3 separate regions of the Homo sapiens genome follow, and all the other regions are linked to region 3. Evidence: fine-mapped expression QTL. A gene starts in region 3. Each other region holds a variant in brackets. All regions are shown on one strand. Distances are from middle to middle. Region 1 overlaps UBR4 (ubiquitin protein ligase E3 component n-recognin 4). Region 2 overlaps EMC1 (ER membrane protein complex subunit 1). Region 3 holds the start of EMC1 (ER membrane protein complex subunit 1).

Region 1 (5,335 bases), 160 kb after region 3:
ACTCAAAGTCAGCTGATTTCCAGGCTTATTCTTTTTTTTTTTTTTGAGATGAAGTTTTGCTCTTGTCACCCAGGCTGGAGTGCAGTGGCATGGTCTCGGCTCACTGCAACCTCTGCCTCCCGGGTTCAAGCGATTCTCCTGTCTCAGCCTCCCGAGTAGCTGGAACTAAAGGCACCTGCCACCACACCTGGCCAATTTTTTGTATTTTTAGTAGACTCGGGGTTTCACCATGTTGGCCAGGCTGGTCTCCAACTCCTGACCTCAGGTGATCCGCTCCCCTCAGCCTCCCAAAGTGCTGGGATTACAGACGTGAGCCATTGTGTCTGGCCATCCAGATTTATTCTTAGTTACCAAATTGAATTACTTTCTTTAGAATAAGGCTTTATCTAGTTAGATACTTGGCATTTATGCTATGGCCATTCATTTTTCTTGCAACACATCTTGTTGTGTAGCTGGTCCTGTGTTAGACTGAGGAGACAGCTGTCGCCTGTGCCTGTTGGGAGCTTACTGTCTGGTGGAAGATAGAGCCAAATACAGAGTAGTAACTAAACAGCGAGATAGATGCAGTGTGGAAGGGGCCTCAGGAAATAGGATTGTTAAGTAGAGGGCATGGCACCTGCAAAGGTTCAGAGGCCAAAGAGAGCTTAAAGCCTTCCAAGAATTGAAAGCAGCTGCAGTCGGAGGCGAGGCATGGCAAGAGCTGCCGATGGAGATCCAAGCAGGGGAAAGGCATGTTCTTTCTCCCAGAAGAGGAGTGTGGGTTTTCTCCTGAGGGCAGTGCCCTGGCCATATTACAGAGAGTGAATTGAAGGGAGGTGAGATTGGAGGTAGGAAGAACAGTTGACAGGCTTTTATCGTAATTGAAGTGAGAGAAATGGCAGCTTAAACTAGTTCATGGATAGATTCAACAGAGATTGAGCTGGGAGGAAGAATAAATGGGATTTGGAGAGTGACCGAACGTGAGAAGCTAAGAAGCTGAATGAATCAAGAACCTGCTCAGTTTCTGGAATGAGTGATGAGGTGAATGGTGGTGCCACTGAGATGGAGAAGATCAGAGGTTTGCGAGTAAGGTGGAGGAGAGTTCATTAGACTATGCTATGAATGTATGGTCTGTCCTATTAATAACTAGAATGTAAGTTAAATGAGAGCAAGGTCTTTGTTTTCCCAGCACCGAAAACACACATGTGCAAGCATGCACACACAGTAAACAGCCAGAATGTTGAGTTTGGGGTACCTGTGGAAAAGCTCAGTAGGAGTTGAAATATGGGCTCAGCATTTAGGAGCATGAGACATGAGGGAATAGGTAATTTCGCTGAGACACAGATTGGAAGTGGACTTGCTGTGAGAACAGATTTATGAGCTACTGAGTGATCTGCTGGCTGTGTTATTTTCAGCCTGTTGTCTCATATGTAATCATTGCTGTCAAGTCACTTGTGACAGGTTGGTGAGGATTTCAGGGATGTGGTAATATTTCTCAGTGAGCTCACCTGGAGTGCTTTTTCCAACTACACCTGTCTTTAGCCTTCTGATGTTCTCCACCCCCGTTTATCACATAGCGCTATACGTAGTGACTTCCAGCTTTTTCAGGCACAGAGGTTTCTTGTTAATATCTTTTTTGTTGTTAAAGTTTTTCATGTCCATACCTGCTTGTAGTCATTGCACCTCTAGTATCCCTAGCCTGAGAAAACTGTGCTCCTAGGTTTGGTGGACCCAGGGGCTCCCGTGGAGAACTCAGGGCAGGTCCTTAGGAGAACGTCCAGTGCCTGCTCTGGCTGCTGGTTCACCACTCAGTACACATCAGGTGTTGCTGCTTGTCTTACCAGAATACGGGGATCTTCTCCTGGCCCCTTTCCACATCCTCTGTGATGGATGCTTTGCATATGTTATCTAGTTTTTAGTCATCACAGCAGCCCTTGCACTATCCCCATTTTATAGATGGAAATACTGAGCTTAGAGCATAGGAATTGGTCAGAGGCAGTGGCAGAGCCAAACCCTCTTCCATTTGTCTGTGTCTGTCAAAGTGTGGAATCAAAGGACCTGATTGCAGCTGAGCAGGTGACATGAGATGGTGCATGCTGGTTGAGTTTCTAAACCTTTAAGCTCCCGGGAAGAAGGTTTGTCTACATAATTGGAGGCATGTGTCTCTCTGGTCTCTTACTGGCAGGTTCTGATTGGAACTGATTCCATCCCGAACCTGCATAAGCTGGAGCAGGTGTCCAGTGATGAGGGCATTGGGACCTTGGCAGAGAACCTGCTGGAAGCCCTGCGGGAACACCCTGACGTAAACAAGAAGATTGACGCAGCCCGCAGGGAGACCCGGGCAGAGAAGAA[G/A]CGCATGGCCATGGCAATGAGGCAGAAGGCCCTGGGCACCCTGGGCATGACGGTAAAGCTACCACCTAGAGTCCCCATATTTCTGCCCACACTGTTGATGAGGAGGTGGCCATGGGACAGCCCTGGGGTTGGCCATGGGGAAAGAGAAGGCTGGACAGAGTAGGAGGAAGGAACTAGGTGTGTTCGGCCCTCTCAGAGGTGGAACTACTATCGTTCTATCATACAGATGAGACTCGGAGTAAGTGACTTACGAAGTTTACCAAAACAGTAAACCAGTGATAATAGCCATTAAGTTTATTGAGGACTTATTTAAGCCCTCAAGTAGTTCTAGGAGGTTGATATTGTTATACCCATTTTCCAGATGAAGTAACTGAAACTGAGAGGTGAAGTAAATAGGCCAAGGCACATAACTAATAAGTGGTTGACACAAAGGGTTCTGTGCTCTTCTAACTGTCCCACCTTGGAGGAAGCAGAGTCCTACAAGCTCCTTTTCCAAAGCACAGACTTGAGTGTCAGCAGTTGAAAAGCTCACCTGGGAACAGTGAATGAATCATAGTGCAACAACCCTTGGAAGCTGAGACTTGGCATTGCTGGCACGAAGATGCTGGCATGAAGAAAGGGGGCTTTTCTGATGGCAGGTGGCACCTTGCCAGGGCTCCAGCTGGATGACTTCCTTTGCTTCAGTGGTTCCTGTAGGAAGAGAGAATAGCAGAAGGGCCTGGGTCTTTATCCTTATTAGAAGACAGCTCAAGGGCTTTCCTCTCATGCACCTGTCCTTTTAGTGGAGGTAGAAGGTTAGCCCTGTTCCTGAGCATCTCCAAGCTAGGGTGGGAGAGGGTGTGTGGAAATCCCCTTGACATGCCACCGGGGTTCCCCTACAGACAAATGAAAAGGGCCAGGTCGTGACCAAGACAGCACTCCTGAAGCAGATGGAAGAGCTGATCGAGGAGCCTGGCCTCACGTGCTGCATCTGCAGGGAGGGATACAAGTTCCAGGTACAGCTGCTGGGCCTACGGTCGGTCCTGAGGGCCCAGCCTGACCCCTTGTTCTAGGTAGCATCCCCCTCCTCCAGGCCATTTTGTTCTTAGCTAGGCAAGATCAAGGCCTGCATCTTAGGAGATTAACAAAAGGACCAGCTGTCCTCTTTAGAGGCAGGAAGGCGAGCTCATCCGAACTTTAGACTTTGTTATCTTTATCATCATCATGACAAATGCTGCTCATTGGATTCTTCCTATATGTGAGGCCTCATGCTCAGAGCTTTGTGTAAACTGGATAATTTTATTTAAACCTGTAAAAAGTCTCAACTTGTGGTTAAGCAAACAAAGGTCACATGGCAGAGCCAGAATTCCAGCCTAGGCTTCTCAGACTCCAGACCTGGGCTTTTAAAAACATACCATGCTGCCTCCATTCAGGGTAACTGGGGAGAAAATCAGAACTTTCTAGGCTTATCCAAACTAGATTCCACCTGAAAGGAGCAGAGCAGCCAGTGACCTGCTGGCTCTCCTGAAGGCTCAAAGGTGGCCTCTTCTTTCCAGCTGGAACTTACTGCTTAGAATACAGGCTGTGAAAGGGCAGGTGCCTGGGCCACAGGGCTCGTTAGTCCTGCGTAATGCAGGCTCTTCAGAGCTGCCCAGCAGGTTTTGAAAAGCAAGGGAATATCAAGAAGTCACTTCTGCATTTTCAGACAGATGAAGCACAAAGTAAAGAAAGATGGCCGAGGCTTGCTTATGTGTATGCCTCTGCATCTGCACCGCATCCCCTTCTTGCTGGTTGCTCCCATAATCCTTGTTTCACTAGGGCTGCGGCCAGCCAAGTGCTTCACCAACAGACTGAGGGGCTGGCCTTACCTGCTCTTCTGAACTTCCCTAGTGAGAGCAACCTGAAACCCAAGGCATTGCCCAAGAAGGGCGGCAGTTCCCCTCTATTCTGCTTCTCCTGAGCCTGACTTGGAGTTTCTCCTCCCCTCTCCTTATGTTGTCGTCTTTGCAGCCCACAAAGGTCCTGGGCATTTATACCTTCACGAAGCGGGTAGCCTTGGAGGAGATGGAGAATAAGCCCCGGAAACAGCAGGGCTACAGCACCGTGTCCCACTTCAACATTGTGCACTACGACTGCCATCTGGCTGCCGTCAGGTAGGCCCTGGCTCTTGCGGAATGGCTCCTTCAGTAGGCCTGCCTGTGGGCCTGGAGCGGGTGGGACTGCCATCCTCGTGGTTTTAAATCTGCTCCTTAGTCTCTGGAGAGTAGGGTGTTCTGCCTGACACCATATAGGTCCCCAAGCAGTTATTTGAATGATAGGAAAATATGCTTTGGCCTGGGCCCAAGGCTAGTGAGAACAGCCCTGCCTACCTGAGTCAGCAAAGCCAGTGTGTACCACATTGAGGCTACAAATAGCAAATTCTCTTCGCAGGGTCAGGAGCCTGGGCCGACTGACTTCTTAGTGTTGGCATGCCCCCACCCCCACCCCCGCCCCCCCGCCCAGGTGCCTGGTTGCCACGTTAATGCCAGCAGTCGCTTGTCCCTGCTCTCCTCCCTATCCAGGTTGGCTCGAGGCCGGGAAGAGTGGGAGAGTGCCGCCCTGCAGAATGCCAACACCAAGTGCAACGGGCTCCTTCCGGTCTGGGGACCTCATGTCCCTGAATCAGCTTTTGCCACTTGCTTGGCAAGGTGAGTGTTGAGTATTTTTCATGGTGGAATGGAGGGGATTTGCAGGGGATGGGACAAGACCCGCTATCAGCCCAATCCCCTGGTGACACCATTTCCTGTTACCTTCCTTGGGAATCCATGTCTGTCTGCTTGCTGACTGGGGAGCTGTCCAGAGCATACAGGGTGGGGGATGGAGGCTTACTCAAGGGGTGACCTGACATGGCCCACCACAGGGTGGGAGGAACCAGCACCCTTAGCTTCCAGGGTACCAGATGAAATTTCTGGGTCTTCACTATTCCTTTGCTGATCTTATGACAGAAGATGTGGGGCCAACTTGGTCCTTGAGGCCAGAATTTCTG
Region 2 (5,335 bases), 20 kb after region 3:
ATTGGGTTGATCTGGGTATTGTGGAAACAGCCCAGTGCCCTCTAAAGCTGGCCATGGTCCCAACTGCCAGGATGAACTTGATTCACTCTGCTCTGATTCAGTCCTGCCCCCCACCCTCTCTCTTCTCTCCATTCATCCAGCCCTCCAACGGATAGCTGTTGAGGGCCTGCTCTGGACCAGGCACTCTGCTAGGCAATGCACATTTTCTTAAGCTGAGGATTAATTTGACTTTACTGTTTATTTCTGCTGCCTGGATCCAGCAATTCAAGGTAAAACCTGCTTCTTGCTGCCTTGTTGCTCGTTGCCTGCTCACATGGCTAGCTTTTGGTTAATTGTTTTTCTTCCTAACTTGGACCAATGAGGTACATCCTTGGGGTGTGTGTGTGTGTGTGTTGACTGCCATGCTTGTGAGTTGTCCTGTTGCTTCTCACTTCTCTTCCTTGAGCAGAGGTGGGTGGAAAATAAGATAAGCAGAGGTTCTGCTCCTTTTTTAGTGAGTTATTACCATGTACCAGCCACCACGCTAAATCCTTTATGTACATCGTATGATGTAATTTTGGAACAGTCCAGTGGGTTACATGCCACTTTACAGATGAGGAACCAGAAGCAAAAAGGTGAAGTACATTTCTCAGTGTTACCCCGCAGTGAGTGGTGAAGCTGGGATCTTAATCTGGGCCTGCTAGATTCCAGAGACCATGCTCTTTACCTTGCTTCCTTGCATCTGTTTACAAATCTGTGGTCTCCAATGGAGGAGATTTGGAGGGCAGTGGCTTCATTGACGGAATCAGGGAAAGAGTGAATGATGGTCCTGGGAACTCGTTGCAAGTACGTCTGTTGGGTGCAGGTTAAACAGCTGACAAAGTAGGAATGAAGCAATGGGAGATGGAAGTACCTGCTCATGATACATATTCACTGACCTGCACCCTCCACCCCCACACTCATACCTCTTCTGGCTTTGTCATGGCACCCAGAAACCTTCTTTTAGCATCTTGGATGTGGGGCTGTGGTGGAGACATTCACAGCATGGCTGTCTCCTGCATGCCTGATCCCTGACCTCTTAGTCTCCTATTCCAAGATTCCAGCTGGGTTTAGTTGTTAAGAGCCAGTTAAGCAGTTTTTGGAAGCTCCTGCATGAGCCTCACCTGAGTGTGAGACTTTGGGCATCAGATACAGGACTGCCCTTTGGGCTTGTGGCCTAGAGTGTGGACTTTATTGCTCCAGAGGAGAGGCAGAGATCCCTCATTAGGAAAATCATGTACCTCCTTATGGACCCCTAGTCTGATGTAGAGTATGTTACTTTTCCTTTACACCAGATGGCTTGCTGGGGATGTTCCTGAAACGCCTCTCGTCTCAGCTTATCCTGCTGCAAGCATGGACTTCCCACCTCTGGAAAATGTTTTATGATGCTCGGAAGCCCCGGAGTCAGATTAAGAATGAGATCAACATTGACACCCTGGCCAGAGATGAATTCAACCTCCAGAAGATGATGGTGATGGTAACAGCCTCAGGCAAGGTGAGTGGGGTTTAAGCTCCAGTTACTGAACCTTTTCAAATTCTGAGGGTGAGGAACAAAAAGCCTTCAGTGAGGGATAACACTGGTTCTAGTTTTCAAGGACAGACTCAGTTCTTTGGTTTCTCTTTCTAGTAGTGAGCCAAGTATTTGTTTATCTTGCAGCTTTTTGGCATTGAGAGCAGCTCTGGCACCATCCTGTGGAAACAGTATCTACCCAATGTCAAGCCAGACTCCTCCTTTAAACTGATGGTCCAGAGAACTACTGCTCATTTCCCCCATCCCCCACAGTGCACCCTGCTGGTGAAGGACAAGGTGAGGCATCCAGCTCTGACTTGAGCCAGACTCAGTGTGGCTTTTTTGCTATTTTGTAACTTAAATTGCTCCTAGGCCCTTGGAATTGTGTGAGTTAATGAGGAACATTCAGGGGTTAGAACTCTGTTTCTTCTAGTTTCATGCATGGGTGGAGGAACCATCCAGCACTGATGTGGAATTGTTTAGAAAGTGGGTGTGACTTCACCAGCTATGTAGGGAGCCAGCTCTCCTCTTTTCTAAACATTGGCTGTTGGTTGCTGAGTGGCTATTTTCTCTTCTCTCTTTGAGGAAGAGCAGGACACAAAGATATTTTTGTGTCTTCCCAGAATTAGAATGGATTTTTGTGTATTCATTCTAGCATAGAAGGCGGGCTTGGTAGACACTTTCCTGGAACGGCTGCCTGGTGCGATCTCGGCTCACTGCAGCCTCCACCTCCCAGGTTCAAGCAATTCTTGTGCCTCAGCCTCCCGAGTAGCTGGGATTACAGGCACACGCCATCATGCCCGGCTGATTTTTGTATGTTTAGTAGAGACAGGGTCTCACCATGTTGGCCAGGCTGGTCTCAAACTCCTGACCTTAGATGATCCACCTGCCTCGGCCTCCCAAAGTACTGGGATTACAGGTGTGAGCCACCACGCCCGGCCAGGTTGCTGAATTGTTACTTGACTTTTTTATTAGTTCTTGTTTAGAACTGGCAGAGCAGCCAGGCGCGGTGGCTCACGCTTATAATCTCAGCACTTTGGGAGGCCAAGGAGGGCGGATTGCTTGAGTCCAGGAGTTCGAGACCAGCCTGGGCAACATGGTGAAACCCCTCTCTACAAAAAATAAAAACAGAATTAGCCACGTGTGGTGGTTTGTGCCTGTAGTCCCAGCTACTTGGGAGGTTGAGGTGGGAGGATCACTTGAACCTGGGAGGCAGAGGTTGCAGTGAGCCTTGATCATGCCACTGTACTTCCAGCTTGGGTGATAGAGAGAGACCCTGTCTCAAACGAAAAAGAACTGGCAGAGACAGTTTGACTTTTTTCTTTGTGACGTTAGCCTAGGGGACTATTCACCTACAGCCAAGAACTTATTTTCCACAAAGAGGGCAAAGACTAGAGAACCCCCACAGTTGTTGAGCTGGAGTCCCAGCTCTTCAGGTCTATCCCTAGGATTTGCAGTCTTTTCTTGTTGGTGGAGCCTGACAGTTTGCTCATTTTAGGAGTCGGGAATGAGTTCTCTGTATGTCTTCAATCCCATTTTTGGGAAGTGGAGTCAGGTAGCTCCCCCAGTGCTGAAGCGCCCCATCTTGCAGTCCTTGCTTCTCCCAGTCATGGATCAAGACTACGCCAAGGTGTTGCTGTTGATAGATGATGAATACAAGGTACTGTCTTCAGAGGGGATGGAGAACATGCTAGCGGAGTC[C/G]GGTTTGGGGCCAGGTGGTCAAACACAGCGGCCCGGAGATGGAGTGCTCTCTGCACCCAGCACGTGTTTGGGCTCTAAGGCCATCCCGAAGAGAAATGATGGCTGTGTCTGCATTTGTGAAAACTCAGGTTCTTAACAGAACTGAATGTAAACCCTAAACTGAGTTCAAATCAACTGATTTGCAGTTTTATTCTTAAGGCTCTCTTTGATGGGGAAATTTCCTAACTCTTTCCTTGGGCTCTCTGGGTTTTTCAAGGTCACAGCTTTTCCAGCCACTCGGAATGTCTTGCGACAGCTACATGAGCTTGCCCCTTCCATCTTCTTCTATTTGGTGGATGCAGAGCAGGGACGGCTGTGTGGATATCGGCTTCGAAAGGTAGGAAGGCATGTCCTGGCACAACCCTTTGTGGATGAGATGCAGGTGTTTCCTGGCCATTTGGCTAAGAAGTGAATTATGCTACTCATTCTACTGTAAACTTAGATTAGCATAATCCTGATGTCTGATACAAAGTCAATCATTTGTTCATATTTGTTGGGCAGCTACTACATGGCAGATACGGTTCTAGGTGCTGTGGATGGAGTGGTGCACAGTAGAACAAATCTCTGCCCTTGTGGAGCTTTCATTCCACATTCTTTTTCTTTTTTTTTTTGAGATGGAGTCTTGCACTGTCGCCCGGGCTGGAGTGCAGTGGTGCGATCTCGGCTCACTGCAACCTCTGCCTCCTTGGTTCAAGCGATTCTCCTGCCTCAGACACCCAAGTAGCTGGGATTACAGGCGTGCGCCACCGCGCCCGGCTAATTTTTTGTATTTTTAGTAGAGACAGGGCTTTGCTGTGTTGGCCAGGATGGTCTCAAACTCCTGACCTTGTGATCCACCTGCCTCAGCCTCCCAAAGTGCTGGGATTACAGGCGTGAGCCACCGCGCCTGGCCCCATTATTTTTCTATAGCAGAGAGATGGGACTTTTTTTCCATTCTTGGGAGGGTAGAAGGTAGGAATGTGGGTTGAGTAATAAGTTGTACTTTTATATGAAGATGATGTTGACCAACTCGTGATGGAATGTGTGCTTTGAATTTTATTTCTAGAAAGGGGGTCAGTTTGCTTTAATCCTCACATACTTGAGACCAACTCTTGTAAACAGTAATACACGCTGGCTGTGAAGTCCAGCTCTGAAGTTCACGAGGGGCTGGCATGGCCTTGTTAGCAGGACTGTTTGGAGAAGTACTCTGTGGTGTGTACTCACAAACAGCTCTCCCATCCTGTCCTGTAAGGCCTTTTGAGAGGCATAGAGTTTAACCAATTTGCTAGATTGGAAGTCTAGGTTTGTCACTTACTAACTTTGTGACCTTGGGCTCTGGTCTTCTGTTTTCTTATCTGTAAAATAAGGTGATAAGTACCTGTCTCATAAGGTTGTTGTGAGAATTCAACACATAAATCACATAAAACTGCCTGGCACATGGTAAATGCCATCTGAGTTGGAGGTGCTGTTGTTTTGAAAATGCAGCGCCCTTTTGTGACATTTGTAACAGCTAACCTTAGCATAAACAGCACTGGAAATGGTCTGCCCAGAAGACACATCCTTTACCCTTGTGAATGAAAACATAAATAAATAAAATCATCCTTCTGAGTTAATAAAAAGAGGACCTTGAAAGAGACAGTTTTGTAGATTCAGGGGAGTGAACTGGAGTGTGGGTGTCATGAATCTGGAGTCCTGAGGACATCATCTGAGTGAACAATGACCAAGGAAGACAAAGGAGGCAGAGCTGTCTGTGGGAAGTGAGCCAGCTGTGTGCGCGAGTCCGGGACCACAAGGGAGTGTGCTGCCTTTGCCCTCACTTGGTGACCTTCCTCTCTGGGGATGTTTTAGTGAGTTCTTATGTTTTCAAAGAAGGTTGTGGCAATGAAGGCTTATTATTAATAATTTTCACTATTTTAAAAATTTAGGTAATACATTGAGTATATTCTCATTGTAAAAGAGTCCATTGATACAGAGAGGTGAACAAGCAAAATGTGAACAGACCCTTGTAGCCCCATTCCCAGCGGTCTTCCCCTCCCCAGGTGGAAAGCCTGTCAGCAGTTTGCTGTGCCTCTTTCTACTGTCCTTGTG
Region 3 (5,000 bases):
GCCTGCTAATTTTGGCTGGGACCACAGAAATGCACCACCATGCCCAGGTGAGTTTTGTATTTTTTGCAGAGATGGCTTTTGCCATGTTGCCCAGGTTGGTCTCGAACTCCTGGGCTCAAGAGATCTGCCTACCTCAGTCTCCCAAAGTGTTGGAATCATAGGTGTGAGCCACCATGCCTGGCCCCTTGCTGCTCTTGACCATGATGCAGAGGCCACTCTAGCTGGCCTATGCTGTGCAACCATGAGGCTGGGGACTGAATCTCCTGGTATGTATCTGCACCCCAGTATTGCAATTTGGACCCAAAGACGCAGCAACACCTCTCTGGGGAGGAACATGTACCTCTACTGTAAAAATGGCTGGGGCCCAATTTGCCCTCTACCCACAGAGTTTGGCATTTGCCAGACCTGACCCAGGCCCCTCCACAGAATCAAATCGTTCCAGAAACACTTAACAGAACTCCAACTGCAAAGCCCCGGGCGCCTTCACAAAGGGACCCAGGCCTCTCTTCTTTAACCTGCCCGCACTCAGCCCCTCTTAACTAGGTACCACACAGACAAAGACAATGACATCAGTCAATGGTAAGTGGAGCAGAGGAGGGCAAACGAAATATAGCGGGCCACTTCCCATCATTTCCACTGTTATACCTTTGGCTCAAGCCAGCATCACCCTGTCTTGGATTAATGCTGGTCTCACTGCTTCCATTCCTGCCCTCTGCCCTGTCTTCCCCAACTATTCTCACCAAGGCAACCAGAGTGACCCTTCATAAGTAAAGGTAAATCACATGGGTCCTCTGCTACTCACTTCACCTGGGCAGGAAAGCCAATGCCTTGCCAAGGCCGAGGAAGTCCTGCCCTCTCTGCCTAACTCCCTCCCCAAACTCTATTTGGCTCCTTCTGCTCCAGCCTCACTGGCCTCTTGTCCCAAACACGTCATATCTGCTCCCATTTCAGAGCCTTTTCACTTCAGGTTCCCTCTACTTGGAACAGCATTCTCCCAGATAATTCCACAGCTGCTCAATTCCACAGGTTGCTCGCTTCCTTTCTTTATTTTCTGCTCATTTGTCACTTCATCAGTGAGACCTTTCCCGACCACACTATACAAAATATCAACATCTCTTCACCCCATTTTCAATCTGATTTTTAGCATTTTGCGGAATATGTTTCTCCTAAAACGTTAGGCTCGATAAGAAATAGGCTTTCCTTGTGACTGCTGTATCCTCTAACGCCTAGAAAGTGCCAGACCCCTAAATATTTTTGAATATTCCAGGGAGCCGGGTTAAGAGAGAGGCCACCACAGCAAAGGTGGTCAAAAACGGTCTCTTAAGAGGTGCGCAAGTCGGGTGTAGTGGCTCACGCCTGTAATCCCAGCACTCAGGGAGGGTGGTTGGAGCCCAGGTGTTCGAGACCAGCTTGGCAACACACTGAGTCTTCTCTATAAAAAATAAACAAAAAAAACCTAGCTGGGTGTGGTGGCGTGCGCCTGTAGTCTCAGCTACTCGGGAGGTTGAGGTGGGAGGATCGCTTAAGCCAAGGAGGTCAAGGCTGCAGTGACTTATTTTATTTATTTATTTTTGAGACGGAGTCTCGCTCTGTCGTGCCCAGGCTGCAGTACAGTGGAGCGATCTCGGCTCATTGCAACCTCCGCCTCCCGGATTCAAGCGATTCTCCCGCCTCAGTCTCCCAAGTAGCTGGGATTACAGGCACCTGCCACCATGCCCATCTAATTTTTAGTATTTTTAGTAGAAAAGGGGTTTCACCATATTGGCCAGGCTGGTCGGGAACTCCCGACCTCAGATGATTCGCCCGCCTCGGCCTCCCAGAGTGCTGGGATTACAGGCGTGAGCCACCGCATCCGGCCTGCAGTGTTACGATCGCGCCACTGCACTCCAGCCTGGGCAACAGAGCGAGACCCTGTCTCAGAGGGATCCTATTAACTGACAACTAAGAAGGCGCAAACCATACGAAGATGTAAGCATGCCAGGCAGAAACAACCGCAGACACACAACGCCAGACACGGGAACAAACCTGTGCTGAAAGAAGGGAAAGGCAGCCAGGGTGGCGGGAGCGCAGGAAGATGAGAAAGGGCCGAAGTTGGGAAAAGTGGGCCGAAACGGCAGCAGGCATAGCCGGGGGCGGTGTTCAGGAGCTGCCTCCCGACCCAGTTGGCCTTGCAAGAGCACCTGAAACTAGGCAAAACGAGTCTCCGCTCCCCAGACCCGACCGGGCGTCAGCCACCTCTGGCGGTTTTACAGCCCCGAAGCCCCCATTCCAGCTCGCAGCGAGGCAGCGGAACACCTCGAGGATGTCCTGGCGTTCCAATCTGCGCCCCCGCCGCCCCGAAGCCCTCACCGCAGGCTGGGTAGCCAGCCCACGGAGCTCCCCCCAGGGTCCCGACTCCCCCTTCGCCCACCTTTCTTGTCGCGCTTGGATTTGGGCATCGCGCTGAATCCACGTGCGGCGGAAGACGGTGCACCCCGTTAGGACCCCGGCGGCGCGGGGGACTCTGGGACGGCCCTCGGGGGCTGCCCCTCGCGTGTGCCTGACCCAATGTGCACTGCAGCCTGCCTCTCCCTGCCAAGCCGCCGCCTGCGCTTTCTCCCGCGCCTGTAGGGCAACTTCCCGTGTGCCGAGGCAGTCCCTGAATCCCGAGCGTCCCGTCCGACCGAGGGCCTCGCGCGCTATCCCAGCTCTGTGGTCCCGCGGAGGCGGAGCCCGCGGCGCGGTGCATGCCGGGACGGCGGTGGGTGGTGCATGCGCTCGCATCATGGCGGCTGAGTGGGCTTCTCGTTTCTGGCTTTGGGCTACGCTGCTGATTCCTGCGGCCGCGGTCTACGAAGACCAAGTGGGCAAGTTTGATTGGTGCGTACGTGTGGAACATATTCGAGAGATAAGTGGCTGTTTCCCCAGTACCTGTCTCCTACCTGCTAAAGGTTGTCACTTAACAGGATTGGCCGCATAATTTGCAGGACCCAGTACAAAATGAAAACGTGGGGCCCCTTGTTAAAAAATTATTAAGGATTTAAAGTCGTTGGAAGCAGAGCCTTAAACCAAGTGTTAGGGGTCATTCTAAGCTGATCCTTGCGTGTAAGCCGGCCCTGCCATCCAGGAATGCTTGGGGTGCCGGTCAGAGATCACTGATCCCGTCCTCCCTCGTCAGGTTCGATTTTTTTGACTGTGAGGTTTCTGGTCTACCAGGTGTCAGAGGTCGCCAAGCTGTCAGTGAACTTTAATTCCTACTCGAATTGGTGTCTTGTAGGCAAGTGAACAGGAGCTTTCGTCTTAAAAGTCCTAAACTGAGTCCTTTTCCCCTCTCATCAACCTAGTCTGGCCCTGGGCTCACAGCAGGATTGCCCAAAACACTAAGCAGCTAGAATATGCCATTCACTCATTCATTCATTCACCCACCCACGTCTTCCTTAAGGCCCTGGAGTAGCTTGCTTTTGTTTGAATTTTACTAGTTAAGACTTGTGTGATCTTGGGGAAAGTGACTTAACCACTCTGTGCCTTGGTTTCTTTGTCTGTAGAATGGGTTTACTAACAGTCCGTTATCTCTTACAGTACTTGTGAGAATGAATGAGACAATCCCATTAAATTACTTAGCACAATGCCTGGCTCATTGAATGCAGTCATTAAGCGTTATCTGTTATTATTGCTATTTACACTTTATTCTTCAGGGCCCAGGTCAGATTTCTCCTCCTCTGAAGTATTTTCTGTCTTGGAAAAGTTGATTCGCATATATGTTGAGTACCTGTTATGCCAGACAGTGTGACAAATAAAACATGTTACATTTTTAATGATGTGCACAACTGTTCACAATGTCATATGTGTATGTTACACATATATATCGGGTGATATGTGTATCTAATTTTGCAGAATACTTGATATATGCAATTTTCTTAATTTTATTTTCATGAATGAATGAATGAATGAATGGCATTTCCTAACTGCTTAGTGTCTTGGGCAGCTCTGCTCTGAGCCCAGGGCCAGGTTAGGCTGATGAGGGGGGAAAAGGACTCTGTTTAAGACTTTTTTTTTTTTTTTTTTTTTTTTTTTTTGAGACAGTTTTGCTCTTGTTGCCCAGGCTGGAGTGTAATGGCGCGATCTCATGGCTCACCACAACCTCCGCCTCTGGGGTTCAAGCGATTCTCCTGCCTCAGCCTCCCGAGTAGCTGGGATTACAGGCATGCGCCACCACACCCAGCTAATTTTTGTATTTTTGGTAGAGACAGGGTTTCTCCATGTTGGTCAGGCTGGTCTCAAACTCCCGATCTCAGGTAATCCACCCGCCTAGGCCTCCCAAAGTGTTGGAATTACAGGTGGGAGCCACTGCGCCCAGCCAAGACTTTTTAAAATTTTTTGAGACAGGGACTCATTCTGTAGCCCAGGCTGGAGTACAGTACTATCATGGCTCACTGCAGCTTTGACCTTGCAGGTTCAAGTGACCCTCCCAGCTCAGCCTCCTGAGTAGCTGGGACTACTGGTGCACACCTCTCCAGTTTCTTTGTATTTTTTGTAGAGACGGGGTTTTGCCATGTTGCCCAGGCTGGTCTTGAACACCTGGGCTCAAGCAATCTGGCTGCCTCGGCCTCCCAAAGTGCTGGGATTACAGGTGTGAGCCACTGCACCTGGCCTACAGTTTTCAGATTGAAAAATAAATGAAGACATACAGGTATGCATCACTTAATGATGGGAATACATCCTGAGAAATGCCCTCTTGTGCAAACGTTGTAGCATGTACTTATGTAAATCTAGATGGTTTAGCCTACTACACACCTAGGCTATATGGTACAGCCTATTCTTCCTAGGCTACAAACCTGTACGGCATGTTACTTTACTGAAAACTGTAGGCAATTGTAACACAATGGTAAATATTTGTGTATCTAAACATAGAAAATGTATGGTAAAAATAGGATATGAAAGATAAAAAATGGTACACTGGTATAGGGCACTTAACATGAATGTATCTTGCAGAACTAGGAGTTGTTCTGGGGTTAGTCAGT

What was found. PIP is the estimated chance that this variant, and not a neighbour inherited with it, causes the effect.
Region 1: its variant is fine-mapped to the expression of EMC1 in aorta (GTEx, PIP 0.96). The same link has a PIP of 0.9 or more in gastroesophageal junction, subcutaneous fat and transverse colon.
Region 2: its variant is fine-mapped to the expression of EMC1 in whole blood (TOPMed, PIP above 0.99). The same link has a PIP of 0.9 or more in cerebellum, esophagus muscle, ileum, left ventricle, lymphoblastoid cells and nucleus accumbens.

The regions. Positions count from the first base shown.
Region 1 is chr1:19,085,807-19,091,141 of GRCh38, reverse strand. It overlaps UBR4 (ubiquitin protein ligase E3 component n-recognin 4), which reads left to right. Exons shown (of 106, transcript NM_020765.3): 98 at 2,165-2,383; 99 at 3,213-3,326; 100 at 4,321-4,463; 101 at 4,872-4,997. Among named protein-coding and RNA genes, the nearest start is that of UBR4, 120 kb to the left of the region's middle. RefSeq lists an enhancer at 3,102-3,471. The variant G/A (reference allele first, on the strand shown) is at 2,332.
Region 2 is chr1:19,229,114-19,234,448 of GRCh38, reverse strand. It overlaps EMC1 (ER membrane protein complex subunit 1), which reads left to right. Exons shown (of 23, transcript NM_015047.3): 14 at 1,314-1,513; 15 at 1,676-1,825; 16 at 3,027-3,188; 17 at 3,486-3,605. All of the region lies in intron 1 of EMC1-AS1 (EMC1 antisense RNA 1), which reads right to left. Among named protein-coding and RNA genes, the nearest start is that of EMC1, 20 kb to the left of the region's middle. The variant C/G (reference allele first, on the strand shown) is at 3,230.
Region 3 is chr1:19,249,274-19,254,273 of GRCh38, reverse strand. EMC1 (ER membrane protein complex subunit 1) reads left to right here and starts at 2,750. Exons shown (of 23, transcript NM_015047.3): 1 at 2,750-2,859. The coding sequence starts at 2,765. It overlaps MRTO4 (MRT4 homolog, ribosome maturation factor), which reads right to left and starts at 2,469. Exons shown (of 8, transcript NM_016183.4): 1 at 2,411-2,469. The coding sequence starts at 2,438. RefSeq lists enhancers at 1-13, 14-515, 2,332-2,837 and a silencer at 77-222.